2 separate regions of the Homo sapiens genome follow, and region 2 is linked to region 1. The links come from fine-mapping of genetic effects on gene expression. Tissue or cell type: whole blood. Region 1 holds a variant in brackets; the other region holds the start of a gene. All regions are shown on one strand. Distances are between the middles of the regions.

Region 1 (8,109 bases):
TTTCTGAAAGAATGAATTAAAATTAAACTTGGCTTGATATACGTAGACAGTAATATATGCCTATGTGTCCTTCTATTTTGACTATTTTGCTTCTGTTATTTCTTGGGGAAACAATCACCATGATAAATGAAGAACACTAAAGCTTAATATTGTATAATTCTCATTATTTTGTTGTTTTTGTTTTTCCTCCTACTTTTTTCTACCAAAGCAATGTGGACAATTTTCTTATTCATACTTTCTTTTATGTTTTTTTTTCTGATGAGAAATCACCACCAAAAATTAAGCTCATGTGGATTTGTGTAATTTTTCCTGCTCCTATCTATGACCATCTTTACCTTTACTTTAGATTTTACAGCTTCGTAAAACACTTATTTACTTATTTATTATCTCCCTGTATCATTATTTTTTCTTTTCTTTTCTTTTCTTTTTTTTTTTTTTTGAGAAGGAGTTTCACTCTTGATGTCCAGGCTATAATGCAATGGTGTGATCTAGGCTCACCGCAACCTCTGCCTCCCAGCTTCCCCGGTTCAAGCCATTCTCCTGCCTCAGCCTCCTGAGTAGCTGGGATTGCAGGCATGCGCCACCACGCTCGGCTGATTTTTTGTATTTTTGGTAGAGACAAGGCTTCACTGTATTAGCAAGGATGGTCTTCATCCTTGTGATCCACCCGCCTCAGCCTCCCAAAGGGCTGGGATTACAAGCATGAGCCACTGTGACCAGCCAACTATTCGTTATTAAATGAAAGAGAGAATGGCTCTCATAATAATGATGGACGCAGCCTTGTATGAAATCTTACTAAACAGGCTGAACGCCGCCTAAACATTAAAAAGCAAGGTAAATTTAAGCAAGTTTATATTTTATGCTGTCATTACATTTAATTGGGTTAAAAGTTAAGGGGTATTAGGCAGAGAAAAAAACCTCAGACTTGACTCTTGGAGCTCTGGAGTCTAATAACATAACTCACGGGAGTGGTTAAAGAAGACCTTACCCCTGAGTTTAGGCAAGACAGTGTGTGTCTTTTTTTTTCTTCGTCGTCTTCTTTCTTTTTTTCTGAGACAGACTCTCCCTCTGTCACCCAGGCTGGAGTGTAGTGGTGCAATCTCGGCTTACTACAACCTCTGCCTCCTGGGTTCAAGCGATTCTCCTGCCTCAGCCTCCCGAATAGCTGGACTACAGGTGCGTGCCACAATGCCTGGCTAATTTTTTGTATTTTTAGTAGAGACAGGGTTTCACCGTGTTAGCCAGGATAGTCTCAGCCTCCTTACCTGGTGATACACCTGCCTCGGCCTCCCAAAGTGCTGGGATGACAGGCGTGAGCCATTATGCCCAGCCAGTATGTGGTATTTTAACTGTCCATTATCACCCACTCCATGACTTCATGGCAACAGTGAAGAAGACGAAGTTCTAGGTGCAGCTTTTGATGCATGTGGGAAAAATATGGAGCTTATCTCAAAGAATTGTGGTTGTCATGGCGAAACCCTGTCTCTACTAAAACTACAATAATTAGCTGGGCCTGGCAGCAGAAGCCTGTAGTCCCAGCTACTGGGGAGGCTGAGGCAGGAGAATCACTTGAACCCGGGAGGTGGAGTTTGCACTGAACCGAGATTCTGTCACTGCACTCCAGCCTGTGCAACAGATTGAGACTCTGTCTCAAATAATAATAATAATAGTAATAATAATAATGATTGTATGATTTGAACTCTCTGAAGTTATCTTGAAGATTATTAGCTCAGATTCTTTAGCCCACCTCATAGCTTTCTTGGGGTAAGAAGTCAACTCCCAGGAGGCCTTTGTGGAAGGGAAATATACTAGTGAGAGCCACCTGGCACTCAGGTCAAGAAGTACACAAAGAAAATGCCTGGAAGGAAGAGGTTGGGGAAGGAAATTGCTGTGGAAAATCAGCTTTGAAAAACTCTCACAGTTTGTTGTTGTTGTTTGCTTTGGTTTTGTTTTTAAATAGAGACAGAGCCTTGCCCTGTGGCCCAGGTTGGAGTCATGAGGCATGATCCTGGCTCACTACAGCCTCGACCTCCCTGGGCTCAAGTGATTTTCCCACCTCAGTTTCCTCAGCAGCTCAACCTTTCTGGATTCTGTGATCCTCCCACCTCAGCCTCCCACAGTGCAGGCATGGGTCACCACACACAGCTTATTTTCGTATGTTTTATAGAGATGAGATCTTGCCATGTTGTCAAAACTGGTCTCAAACTTCTGGGCTCAAGTGACTTGTTCACCTCAGCCTCCCAAAGTGCTGGCATTACAGGTATGAACCACCATGCCCAGCCTCCTACTGGTATATTTAGAAGGTTATAAATATTTCCAGTATTGGATGTATGCACAGAGAAGCTCCTGAAGCTTTCACTTTTCCCTGACTTTGGGCTAAACACTGGAGTTCCTCAAAGAGTCAATCTGCAAAGTCTGGGCAGTTTTTCTTTTCTTTCTTTTCTCCTTTTCCTTTTCTTTGCTTGGAGTGTTTTCTAAAAATTTGTCAAAAACTGTAGATGGCAAACAGAGTGACAGAACACAGGTTAAGTGTCCATACATGACAAAGAATACAGGATACAAAAATAGCTTTAGAGGGTTGCAAAACAAGTAAATGACCCCCAAAACTAAGCAATTGTGGAGGGCAGGAATATGTTTTCTGGATATGCTGAATGATTTCTAAAGTGTTCACTGTTCAACAATAAAATACAAGGCATTCAAAAGGACAAAAAAATGGCACCCTCAACGGGAAAATAATGAAAAGAAACTGTACTTCAGGAATCCCAGCCGTGGTATTTACTAGGCAAATATTTTAATTTACTTGACTTCAATGTTCTCAAATACCTAAGAGAAGCCAGGACAACAGTGTTTCAAAAATGGAAAATACCAATAAAGACCTACAAATTATTTTTAAAAATGAAATTCATACCCTGTAACTAGAAAGACTGAAGAGTATGCATGAGCATGCAGGAAGGATAATCAAGGAACTTGAAGACGGATTGTTTGCTATTCAGTCTAAGGAAGGTACAAGAAGAGAAAAACAAGAAAAATGAATAAAACTAAGGTAGCCATGGAACAACATCAAGTATATCAACATATTCATAATGGGAGCCCCACAGGAAAAGGAGACACAGAGATAAAAAAAATAATTTGAAGAAGCAATGGCTGAAACTTCCCAAATGTGCTGATAGATACAAATTTACTTATTCAAGAATCCCAGAAGAAAAAAAATACTCCTAGAAGAATAACCTCAAAGATATCTACACTGGAACACATACACTGAAATTGACAAAAGATAAATTAATAGAGAACTTTAAAAGAAGCAAGACAGAAGTAACTGATCACATGCAAGTTATCCTCAATGACATTAACAGCCAATTTCTCATTAAAATTTATGGAGGAAAGAAGTCACTGGGGTGACATATTTAGAGGGCTGAAAGAAAACATAAATCAGTCATAAACTCAATATCTGGCAAAACCGAACTCAATTTCTCAATTTATGAGTAAGGCATTTCCAAGCAAACAATTAAAGAGAGTACATCACTATTAGATTGGCCTTACAAAATATGATGAAGTAAGGAATGTAAGAACAATACACAGTAACCCATGTGCAAATAAATAAATAAATAACATCAATAAAGTAATTACACCAGGAAATAGAAAAGCCAATACCATTGTATTTGGGGGTTTCTGTGACTTTATTTTTCTACTAGATTTAAAAAGTGGTAAGGCACAGTATTTCACATCTGTAATCCCAACCAAGGTGGGAGGTTTGGTTGAGCCCAGGAGTTTGAGACCAGCCGGGGCAACAAAGTGTGACCCTGTCTCTACAGAAAATAAAATTAGCCAGGTATGGTGGCATGAACCTCTAGCCCCAGCTACAAGGGAGGTGGAAGTGGGAGGATCCCTTGAGGCCAGGAGCTCAAGGCTGTAGTGAACCATGTTTAGCCTGCATGATTGAAACCATGTCTCAGTAAAGTAAAATAAAATAATAAAATAAAGAAATGACATATAATAAGACAAGAATTATATATCTGTGCTGTTAGCACATATTGAATAAGAAGCAATTTTTGACAAAACGTAGGAATGGAGGGACAGCAGTATGGGAAAATATTTTTATATAATGTAAACAGTTGTTATAATTCACACTATATTATTATAAATTTAAGATATTAGTTATAATACCCTTAATGACCACTAAGAAAATAACTGTTAAAATATACTAAAGAGAAATGAGACAGTCAAAATGGTACCCTAGAAAAACAATCAAATGTAAAAATGAGCAGTTTTTGGAGGAATTGAATAACAACCACAACAACAACAAATTTGTAGAAAACAAGGACAAAAATAGCAAAATCTTTCTTATCAGTAATTACCTTAAATGCAGATAAATTAAACTCCAGTTAAAAGTCAAAGATTGACAGAATGACTTTTTACATGTTTTAAAAGGGACGGGAAAATTAATTCAAACAGTAACCAAAATAGAGCTAGAGGTACTATGCAAATATCAAGAATGTTTAATTCATCAAAAAGATATTATCCTTACATATTTACCTAATAAAAGATCCGCAGGATATATGAAACAAAGACAAACAGATTTGAAGA[G/A]GTGGACAGTTCTGCAATAATAGTTGGTGATTTCAACATCCCACTTTCAACAGTGGATGAAACAACCAAACAGAGGTTCAATAAGAAAACAAATGTCTTAAACAGCATTATAAACCAAATGAGGCTATTAGACATATACAAAACACTCCACTCCACAAGTGGATTAAATATTCTTCTAAAGGGTTTATAGGTCCAGAATAGTCTTCACGGTAGGCCACAAAGCAAGTCTCATATTTAAAACTATTGAAATCACACATAATGCTTTTTCCAACCACAGTGGAATAAAACTAGAGACTGCCCCCCCTCTTTTTTTTTGAGACGGAGTTTTGCTCTGTCACGCAGGCTGGACTGCAGTGGCACAATGTCAGCTCACTGCAACCTCTGCCTTCCATGTTCAAGTGATTCTACTGCCTCAGCCTCCCAAGTAGCTGAGACTACAGGTGCCCACCACCACACCTGGCTAATTTTTATAATTTTAGTAGAGATGGAGTTTCACCATATTGATCAGTCTGGTCTTGAACTCCTGACCTCAAGTGATCCATCCCCCTCAGCCTCCCAAAGTGCTGGGATTACACGCACGAGCCACTGTGACCGCCTGAGCCCCATTTTCTAAAAACTGAAAAATGTATAATATTTGGAAACTAAACAATACACTCTTCAACAACCTATGGCTAATTGAAGAATCTGCAAGAAATTAAAGAATCCTTGCAGATAAATGGAAAATTAAAGCATATTGAAACTTCTGGGATGCAGCAAAATCAATACTGAGAAATATATAGTTGCAAACATAGACACATAAAGAAGAAATGTAAAATTATCAATTCACACACAAGGAAGTAGAAAAAGTGCAAACTAGAGAAGAGTACTTTTACAAAAAAATGACATAGTAAAGGAAGCTGGCATGTTTCCCCACCAACCCTAGCTCCCCCTCCCCCCAAGAACACATACAGGAAACCAAAAACCGATATACATTGCATAGGTTATCACCAGCAATAACTCAGAGCTCAAATATGAGGATGAGGCAGCTCCTAGGGTGACAGAGAAGTGAAGAAACCAGGCAGATGATAAGAAAGTTTGGCTTTTATATTCATGACACTCTTCCCCTAGTCTGCTGGCAACGAAGTGTAAAAAAAAAAAAAAATCCTCTGTCTCATGCTTACTACACTGGATTAAATAAAGTTGAAGTGGACAACACAAGCCACTTTTGATTTCCTGGCAGGAAACCTGTTCCTGTCTTAACCCACAGGAAGCCTTGTGAATGCCTGAAAGAAGAAGAATTCCTGAGGACAACCAGGGACAAGGCAGAAAGGCAGGACTACCACCTCCAGCCTTGATATCTTAGCCATAGGAGATGCCAAACCAGAGTGCCTGTGCAGCAGTACCATGAGGTAGGAGGTATATTTCATAATTTCCCTAGGCACAAACTTATAGCCAGCCTTCCCTCACTGTTAGCATAGCCCCTTCAGGATCTCTCTGATAGGGGACTGGCAGCAATCCTAAGCTTGCTAGAGCTGAGGCAAACCTTGGCTTAAGGCACCATCTACTGTCAAAACAAAGGAACTGACGTAGCTGAAAGCAAGCAAACAAAAACCCACCATAGGTGTGTCTAAAAAAACCTCAACGCAAATATATTCAGTAAAACACAAAATAATACAGAGAAAAGAATGAACTGAATAACTAGTCCTTCAATAAAAAGATATAGATGTATAACCACTAGAAATAATACCGAACAAGGAATCATAATCTTCCCAAATGGACAAAGCACTAAACCATTGACCAGTGCTAAATAATGTGATGGCTATCAGTGAGTTCTCTAATCAAGAATTCAAAATGGCGGTTTTCAGGAAATTCAGATCTCTAAAATGACAGAAAAGGAACTAATAAACTTCTGAGAGAAATTTTTAAAAATGAAATAATTTAAAAAATCCTGGAACTAAGAAACACATTGGCTGAAGTGAAAAATTCAAGAGACTCTCACCAGCAAAACAGATCAAACAACAAAAAAATCAAATGTGATTTTTAGAGTGAGCTCTAAAACAGGTTATTAGGGCTAGGTATGGTGGCTCACGCCTGTAATCCCAGCACTTTGGGAGGTTGAGGTGGGTGGATCACTTGCAGTCGGGAGTTCAAGACCAGCCTGGACAACATGCTGAAACCCTGTCTCTGCTAAGAATACAAAAATTTAGCTTGGCATAGTGGTGCACACCTGTAATTCCAGCTAGGTATTAGGTCTCCTATAGAATCGGTAATCTTGTCTCATTTGCTAGAAGCACAATTTAGATAAAATATAAAATGGATATAAGCCAGTGAGTTTTATATTACTCTATTGCTTTATTCATGGGTAAATTTTGTCAGGGCTATAAAATCTGCTTGCCTTTATCTATATTTTTAGCATATAGATGAACTGTGTGTGATATATTTCTACCTCTGGATGTTAGTACCAAGTTAATTTTTAATATCACTTAAAAGGGTGCTATCCAAATTGGCTAAGAGATAAATGAGCATTATTGTGAATTACATACTCCTAAAAATCCTAGAAATAGACAATCAAGTTCACATGACTCATGAAAATGTTTAGTAAATGAGATTAGTTTAAAATAGTTTATTGCACACAGCCACAGATTACAAGTTATTGTTATTATTAACTGCAAGAATACATTTGCGGGCCAGGCATGGTGGCTAACGCCTGTAATCCCTGCACTTTGGGAAACCAAGGCAGGTGGATCATCTGAAGTCAGGAGACCAGACCAGCATGGCCAAGATGTTGAAATGCCATCCTTACTAGAAATACAAAAGTCAGCCAGGAAATGTGGTGCACACCTGTAATCCTAGCTACACAGGTGGTTGAGGCAGGACAATTTTTTGATCCCAGGTGGCAGAGGCTGCAGTGAGCTGAGCTCACACCACTGCAATCCAGCCTGGATGACAGAGGGTGACTCTGTCAGAAAAAACAAACAAACAAACAAACAAACAAACAAAAAACACGAAAAAAGGGAATACACTTGATTTGTATACTTATTGGATTTCCTAATGTAGTAATTGAGCTGTGATATACTCACTGGACATTTAAGATTTTATAAAGATTTTTATGACAATAGAGAAATTTCTGCAGTTTAGTAAAAATGCATTTGCATAGAACATAAGTGGAAAGTGGTTTTATAACCAAGTCTTGTCTGAAATATCAAATATGTTTAAGAATGATTTCCATAGAATCAGATATAACCAGGTAGCATTAAGAACTAAAGTTGACCGTGGGGGCAATACTTATAAAGCCTTCATGGAAAAACCAACCTGGTAATTGGTTACAGAGTTCCTAGCCTACAAGATAAGAAAGGTCACTTCTGGGCAAGCTCTGGAACCTCACCATATTTGAAGACTTTGAGAGGAGTGGAATTCAACCAAATCTACAGGTTCTGATAGGGAAGTCGGTGGCAAGTTCCTGGCTTGGCTTCTAGTCCCAAGGCTTCAAAAAATATAATCTGAGACTAGTTACAGAAATTTTCAAAAATGAAACTGGAAAGGCCT
Region 2 (8,109 bases), 50 kb before region 1:
TGAACTCAGAGGTTGAGGATGCAGTGAGCTGAGATTATGCCACTGCACTCCAACCTGGGCAACACAGCAAGACTCTGTCTCAAAAGAAAAGAAGGAAAATGTGCATTAGAAAACATGAAAGGTGGACTCTTACAGGAAGTAATTAAAGCCACAAGCTTTGATGGAAGATCAAAAAGGTCTATTGATAATGCCAGCTATAAAATTCTACCATGTGCCTACAGTGATACAATCCATGAGTAAAATATGTGAAGTTTATTGCGCAAGTGAGGACACAAATAATTGTGATCATGGTTACTGAGCTCGCTAGGTATGAATTGTAATGAAGAAAATCTTTGCCAACTAAAATCCAAGTTTAAAATAACTGAGAAAAAGTGAGAAAATACTGAAGTATATAGTGTGTGTTAATGTTTCTCTAGATTTTCTGTGTGTGCGTGTGTGTGTGCATATCTATTCTTTTTGTGCCATTGTAATTTAGGCCCTCATTTGATTTATGCCAGACTACTTGAGAAGTCAGTTATTACTCTTTTCTAACTCCAATTCCTTCTTTTTCCCTTGCCTGCTGCCATGGTTTTGATATATAAACATATGTATGTGAATTAGCCAACGTTGACTGTGGACTTAGAAACCATAAAATCGTGAGTGTGCACCCTCATGGCGGGATTGATAGCATTATCTGGCGAACAGGCTAGTTATTGTGTGAGTGGGCTTTGGAACCAAGGATGAGTTTGGCCCTGATTTTCTGTTTATCACATGTCCTTTACCGTAGGATGGCCTCCTGCCATGTTGCAACATAGAAAGAAGATCTCACCAGATGCAGCCCCTTGGACTTTCCAGCCTTCAGAATAATGAGCAAAATAAGTCACCTTACAAATTACCCAGTCAGTGGTATTGTGTTGTCGCAGCAGCAAATGGACTAAAACACTCTATTATTTCTTCCTCTTTAGATAATTAAATAAACTAGCTTACAAAGGGCCATGTCAAATTTCCCATCAAATGATAAAAAAGCACATATTTTTTTTTAAATGCGGTACAGTAGCCTGCCACTAAAACAAAGCCCCATTTTACTCCTAACTGTATTTTTAGAAATAAAGGAAAAGCAACCATAAAGGTCAACATGTAATTTTATTGTTCAGTAAGATTATTGCAGGAATTTTTAATGTTCTTGTCAACATAAATTTCAGTCTCTGTTGTCATGCATAATCTGGTACTCTTTTGGTGGAAGATCAGTTGTAACTAGGGTGATATTTTTCCAGTAAAGATGGTTGAAGAGCTGGCCTGTAACGAAAGGCAACTGATGTATCAGCTGTCGCAGTCATTTACAACCACAGGTTGCCTGCTGGTAGCAGGTTAGAATGAGGAGCCTCATTGGCTAATACCTCAGGATATCTGGTGGGAAAAAGTAGGTGGTTTCACTATCAGCCCCAAAGGAGGGAGATATGATGTAGTATTGAGAAGCTGTGGTTGTAACAAAATTCACAACGTGGCCATTTGCTTACATGTCGGTGCTATGAGAGTGCATATGAATATTTGTCAATTGATTTAAAATAGCATGTTGATTTGTTGTAATTTGTTCTGATTGTCCAACTGAGGTTGAAATGGAAGAGGAGGGAAACCACTTCTAATTGGGTCAGGTGAACCAGCAATGCCCTGGCTGACAGAAGATTTCCTTGTTAGAGTCATATTTAAATTTGTAGATGTTGAAAATGAACTTTCTTCACTAGTTTCAGCAGCTAAGACAGAATTATGTTTATCTGTGTTAGCCCCTGCTCTAAAGTGTTTCTTGAAATATTCAGTGAAGTAGATACAAGAGAAGTGTTTTTAATCTTAATTCTTCTTTTCGTTCTTATTAAAAGTTGGGGACAGCCACGTTTGAAATTCGGATGATAATACAACTTTAACTAAAACCAAGGAGAAGGTAATTCAGTGCCATTTTAAACCAAGAGGCAAGTAACAATAACAAACATAACCCATACAATCTCAGATTTCTGTTTTATCACACAAAGTTAATATCATCAAATAATGAATGAACATTGTTTACTATTTTTAAGAACATGCTTGTTGAGAAAAAAAAACACTCAAGTTTTGAAGCCCTCTGGTGAAAACATGTTATACATTTAATAGTAACATTTCACTAAGTGGCTTTGGTATCTTTATTTGGAGTTCACTGGTAAGACTGAATGTTGTTAGCAACATTTCTTAAAACCTGAAAGTTTAATGCTCAACCTGCACTCAATAATTTCAAAAAAATTAAGTAATTTTTACCTTAATATTTGATATAATTTTTAAAATCTGATCTTACTGCATGTATTAACATAGTTACTGATATATAAAATGAAATTACATATATACTCAAAGTGGTAACTGAAATATTTTGAATACCTTGCTTAAAACAGAAATTTCTTTTTCTTCTGCCAGAAAGTTGGCTAGAAAAGCAGATCTGTGAAAATTCTGTTGAATTTTACTAAATCCATAAAGGTTGAGCTGTCAAATTAAGATTTTCATACTGTCAGTTTGAAATATTCTGTAAGGAGCCTTTATTTCCAAATTTTCTTTCTTGAAGAGTTCTTCATTAGTCACTATGCAAGTTTCATTCTTATCCTATGAATTAGACTTGAATTGGTCACTTTCAGCTATTTTCCAAAGTTTACTGGGAAAGGTCAGAGAAGGAAAATCATTATCTTTATCTGGCTCAGAGACATAAAGTATAATGTGGCCTTTTTATCAAGGATCCTTGTGGCAAAACCTGAAAATCATTGATTCAGTCATTGACCTTAAGTCTGAATCCCCAGGGATTATGTGTTCACACAATGGAGACCCAGAGGAGGCTTTTGAACCAGTTGATTCATCTTTAGGAGAAACATCTTGAGTTTCTGCAGAAACATGTGCCATCTCAAATAAGTAATTCTTTAGCGACTTTTCCAGCCTGCATGTGTTTCAAGACTGCAGCTTCAAATGCTGCTTCAGTAGTCTACTCAGGTAAAGTAATTGAGATCACCACAGTGGTTTCCAACCTGAGTAGCAATGGCATCACAAGAGGACTTTGGTCACCTAGCAACAAACATAAAAATTTGGCCAAGACTGTTTACTTTCCAGTCTCAGAAATGTATCTGGTAAAAATAAAATATAGAATGATTACTTACACAGTTTATTCTGCAAAAGTTTCATGCCTGCAGAATCTTTTAAATTAATAAGGAGGGCCAGGCATGGTGGCTCATGCCTGCAATCCCAGCGCTTTGGGAGGCCGGGACAGGCGGATCATGAGGTCATGAGTTCGAGACCAGCCTGACCACCATGGTGACACCCTGTCTCTACTAAAAATACAAAAATTAGCCAGGTGTGGTCCATGTGCCTGTAGTCCCAGGTCTCGGGAGGCTGAGGCAGAAGAATCGTTTGAACCCAGGAGGCGGAAGCTGCAGTGAGCTGAGATTGTGCCACTGCACTCCAGCCTGGGCAACAGAGCAAGACTCTGTCTTAAGAAAATAATAAATAAATAAATAAATAAATAAATAAATAAATTAATTAATATCCTCAATCCCTGAAATAAACATAATTTTCTCCTTGACACACACAGTCTTACTAGATTGGTGCGAGGAGCATAGGGCCTGGTAATTGGACGGTGCAAAAAAATAAAAATAAATATTTTAAAAACTCTCTCAGCTTGGCATGTTGGATTGAAAACTGATGCAGTGTAAAACATATATGGTAAAAAGACATGGCCATATAGACAAAAGGTAGGTTAATGGTTGTCAGGGGCTGGGGAATAGAAAGAACTGTTAAGTAGATAATGGGGTTTCCTGTTTGATGATAGAAATGTTTTAATAATATAATTTTGAATAATGTAATTTTGTATTATGTGAAACATACCTTAAAAAATTAAAATAAAATCAAATATGAATAAAACTGATTAGATTTCAGAATAAAAAGTTATTCATGTATGTATCTATTCAAAACATTTTTTATTCATATCATAGAATAAATAATACTTTCATTTGGTATGTCTGTAAATATCTGACATGTTAATTATGTAAGATTTTAAAAGCAAGTGACCTACTTATAAGGAGATCCCAAAGAGTGGGAGATTTAAAAATGTAATAATAACAAGAAAGTGTTTTAAGTAAAGTAAATTTGTATGTATGTCTAAGCAGAAAATTTTATTATTTGGTTCCAAGAGCCAAATATCTATTTAAAAAATATTTCTTAAGGAATAATCTCTGTGTCCTGCAACGTAAAGTTATCATTATAAAACAGGAGTCAAATTTGTGAATTAATCTTAGAATTGAATAAAATATTTCTTCTCTTTGAAAAATAATCATGCCCCATTTACAGTAAGAATTTTTATATGTTCATGCTTGAGAGGTGGTATATTAAAATTCTAATGCCTTGGCTTTAAGTGTTGAATATGTGTGGAATAAAAAAATAATGATTTTGATATTTCTTATACTGTAGGAGGCAGTTCTCTCATACTGGAAAGAGGTGTCATTGTTAGAAGCTTGTCTTGGTTTAACATAGTTTAAGTTTTGGGGGTGTATTTTGTTTAGTTCAAAATTTTCCATATTAGCAGTAAGTAACAAAAATGTCCAGATCAGAAAACTCTTTGTGAAAATAAAACAGGTGCTCCTACCAGATGTGGTTCATCAATTTTGACAGAATTTTCATTTAAAAAAGGCAAAATTAAAATTTGTTTAATTGTTTGCTTTCTGGGGAATTTTCTTGTTGCTCTGTCTGAAGGAAGTACAGACTTCTTTTGTGATGGGAGGGGATGAATGGCTACTAGACAGCAGCAAAAGATGGGCCATGGGTGCGAAGAGAAGAGGGAGTTAATGGGAGAATCAGAAAAATATCACCTTAAATGTAGGACAATCGAAGTCAAATTGTGGCTGAGCGTTTTGGGGAACTAAGATGTGTGACTCTGTAGGGAGGAAGAATGCCTTGGTGTTTTCAAGGGAAGATGACTCAGCTAGTGCAGTCACCTGACTCCAAACTGCAAGCCTACTTTAGTCATAAAAAGGCAAGAAAATAAGCAATTTTACCTGCAAAGCAAAGGACGTAGTGTTGAAAACGAGACCAGAAATGGTGCTGTTAAAGAGGTGAACAAAAGCATTTACTTTTTGAACGAGTTTCAAAACTGTGAGGGTGGCAAATAGGCAAGGTAAGTAGGAGCAGCCCTCGACCATCTCAGATCAGCTTCTTCAGCCTACCTTGACCTCTGCCTGTCTCAGCTGGGGATCTTAACATAAATCTCTGGATATCAGGGGTGGCTTTTCCCGAGTCTTGAGCCTAGAAACTCCCTCTCTTGATTCTGATTTTCAGAGAAGAGAAGCAGCTGCTTAGCATTTGGGTGGGACAGTGGTTGTTACTAATATATTACAAATTTCAGCATGTTTTTAAACATCAGAAGGAGAAAGTGCTTCGTATTTAAGTGAAATCTCAAAGGGGCAGAAATCTACCATATTTTTTGTTATTCAGATGCAGTGATGCACTGGCTATGTGAGTACAAGAAACAAGTTCACTTAATCACAAACACATGCCTAAATTCCATTGTTCAGTGACTTCACTTTCACTTTCTACCTTGAATTTTAGACTCTGGAAGACCCATTTCTAAACTCTGTGGCCCTTTTCATATGTGCATATTTTCATAAGTGTTTTCCAGAAATAAATTATAGAGGTCCTTCTGTGAGTCCAAAGGAGAAGGAAGTGGTTGGGGCAGCCAGAAAGGTGCAATCTGCATTAATATCATATTCGATGTATGGATTGCTGGGGAGAGAGTGGGATATATTTCTTATAATGTTGGATGTATTTTTCCCCTATCCTGAGGCCCAGAAACTCTGATGTCTCTGCAGTTGTCTTTCCATGCTTTCCTTTATACCCCTCGCCTACTTCTGTAATTTCTCTCTCTACTCTCCCTCCTCCTTCCCACCCTTTTTCTTTCCATTTGTGCTCTCTCCCTCCATTCCTTCTTTTTCCCTTTTCTTTCTTTTTGTGGGTATCTGGTAGCTGCAACTTATTTTCTTTCTGCTTTTCTTACTCACTTACTCTATTTACTAGGTATTTAACAATTGTCTTTAAAAGTAACATCCTTTCTTTCTTAAAATTTTATCCCTAATGGACATTATTTGGGGAAAAACATTTTTATGGTGCCTCTAGATAAGTAATTATATCATCTGCACATGATTCCCGTATTTTCTTACATGCCCGTTCCTCGTAGGTGGAAATGGGTACTTCATTGTACTCTTCTCTCTTTATTTACAAGAGTGTTTTTTCTGTCTCATCCCTTTAAATAACACATTGTCTCTCTTTTTGTGACATTGAATTAATTAGGTCAGATGCGATTTTTCTCATCTATTCATTTGAAGACTGTTTCATATTGCTTCTAGGGCCTATTTGCAAGCAACAAATTATTTTGTTGTTGTTGTTGTTTTGTTTTGTTTTTTAATTTTTGGACCATTTGTCTCATCACTCCAACAAGCAAGAATTAGTTCTCATCATTAAGATCCCTTCAAGATTTCATTCACTTGTTTCAGCAGCCTTGAATTATCATCACCTGGACCTGTTGTTACATCAAGAATCTCTCATTTCTAATGTTCTACTTTGGACACTGTTACCTGTGAGTTTGTTTACATTAAAAAAAAAAAACCTTTTAGTACTTGAGTACCCTAAAGTTTCATATTTTGAATTGGTGTCAGATTTATTATTATTGATCTCTCCATTGCTGGAGAAAACTAAGCAATAGGTAAACTCTATTCTTTTGGTAATTTGTATTTTCTGAATGTTTCACAGTAAATGTTTACTAGTCTTGTGATGCTGCAAATTGGCAATCAGATATATTTTAAAGTGACAAGGTTGCCCTGTTCATCACCAGTTCTGTACATCACGCAGATCAAAAGTAAGGTGTTTAAGTTTATTTTAAATGTTTTTCCCAAAAATTCTGCTTCCACCACTTTTCCAAGCTCTACCAGATGGATACTCAAGAATTGACCAAGGCAATCTCTTCTCTCATATTTCACTGTCAAATACTCTTAATCAGTGAGTCCTGTCAATTCTGTGTTTCTAAGAAATGATGATGGTGGTCATGATTATAATGATGTCAATAGGAACACCTTTCCAAACTTCACTGTGTACCACGAACTCTTCTTCCTGCTGCCGATGTATTATTTTCTCTACACTGCTATCTCCCCAGGAAGATTCTAATGATGTTATCATTGTACAGATGTGGAAACTGTAGCTTATGAGGTTTTAATTTTGCAATTCAAGGAAATGACAGGATTCTGGCAGTGTGGTAGCTCATGCTTGTAATCCCAACACTGGAAGGCTGAGGCAGGTGGATCACTTTAGCTCATGAGTTTGAGACCAGGAAGATGGTCAAACCCCATCTCCTCAAAAAACACAAAAATTAGTGTACATGGTGGCATGCACCTGTGGTCCCAGCTACTTGGGAGGCTAAGGCAGGAGGATCATTTGAGTCCTGGAGGTTGAGGCTTCAGTGAGTCTAGGTCACGCCACTGCACTCCAACCTGGGTGACAAGGGCAGATCATGTCTTAAAAAATAAACAAATAAATACCCACCACAACCAAAAGCAAAGGAAGCAAGCATAATAAGCTAGTTAATATGCTTGTTAGCAATGTGGACATTTATTTTATAGTTAAAAGAAAAAAATAGAAGTGACAGTATTGTAACTCAGAAAGTCTGGTTCCAGAGTTTGTACTGCTAACCAGAACAACTTGAGCATCAGTTGATATTTTCCATTTTTTTTGCTCTACTTTGTCTGATATTAATATAGCCATTCCAGCAGTCTTATCACTAGGGTTAGTAGTGCACAGCTTTATTCCATCTCTTCCGTAGTAATTGTGTCTTTATGTCAAGTATGGGTTTCCAGGAGACAACATATAACTGGATTTTACTATTTTTATTTCTCTTATAGGCTTTACCTTTTAGTTGTGGTATATAAGCCATTTACAGTTAATGTGCTGATTGATGTAGCTTTCTGTTTTCTCCATGTGTTACTTGTTCCATTTTCTCTTATCTGTCTTCTTTTCTATTATTTATTTATTTTTTTAATTTCCTATTATGGCCTTTGTTGGTTTCTTAGCTGTTACTGTTACTTTAGTTCT

Evidence for each region. PIP is the estimated chance that this variant, and not a neighbour inherited with it, causes the effect.
Region 2: it holds the start of XKR3, and the variant in region 1 is fine-mapped to the expression of XKR3 in whole blood (TOPMed, PIP above 0.99).

What each region holds. Positions count from the first base shown.
Region 1 is chr22:16,772,784-16,780,892 of GRCh38, reverse strand. No RefSeq gene overlaps it. Among named protein-coding and RNA genes, the nearest start is that of LINC01665, 28 kb to the right of the region's middle. The variant G/A (reference allele first, on the strand shown) is at 4,585.
Region 2 is chr22:16,822,331-16,830,439 of GRCh38, reverse strand. It overlaps XKR3 (XK related 3), which reads left to right and starts at 5,029. Exons shown (of 4, transcript NM_001386955.1): 1 at 5,029-5,149. It also overlaps the pseudogene HSFY1P1.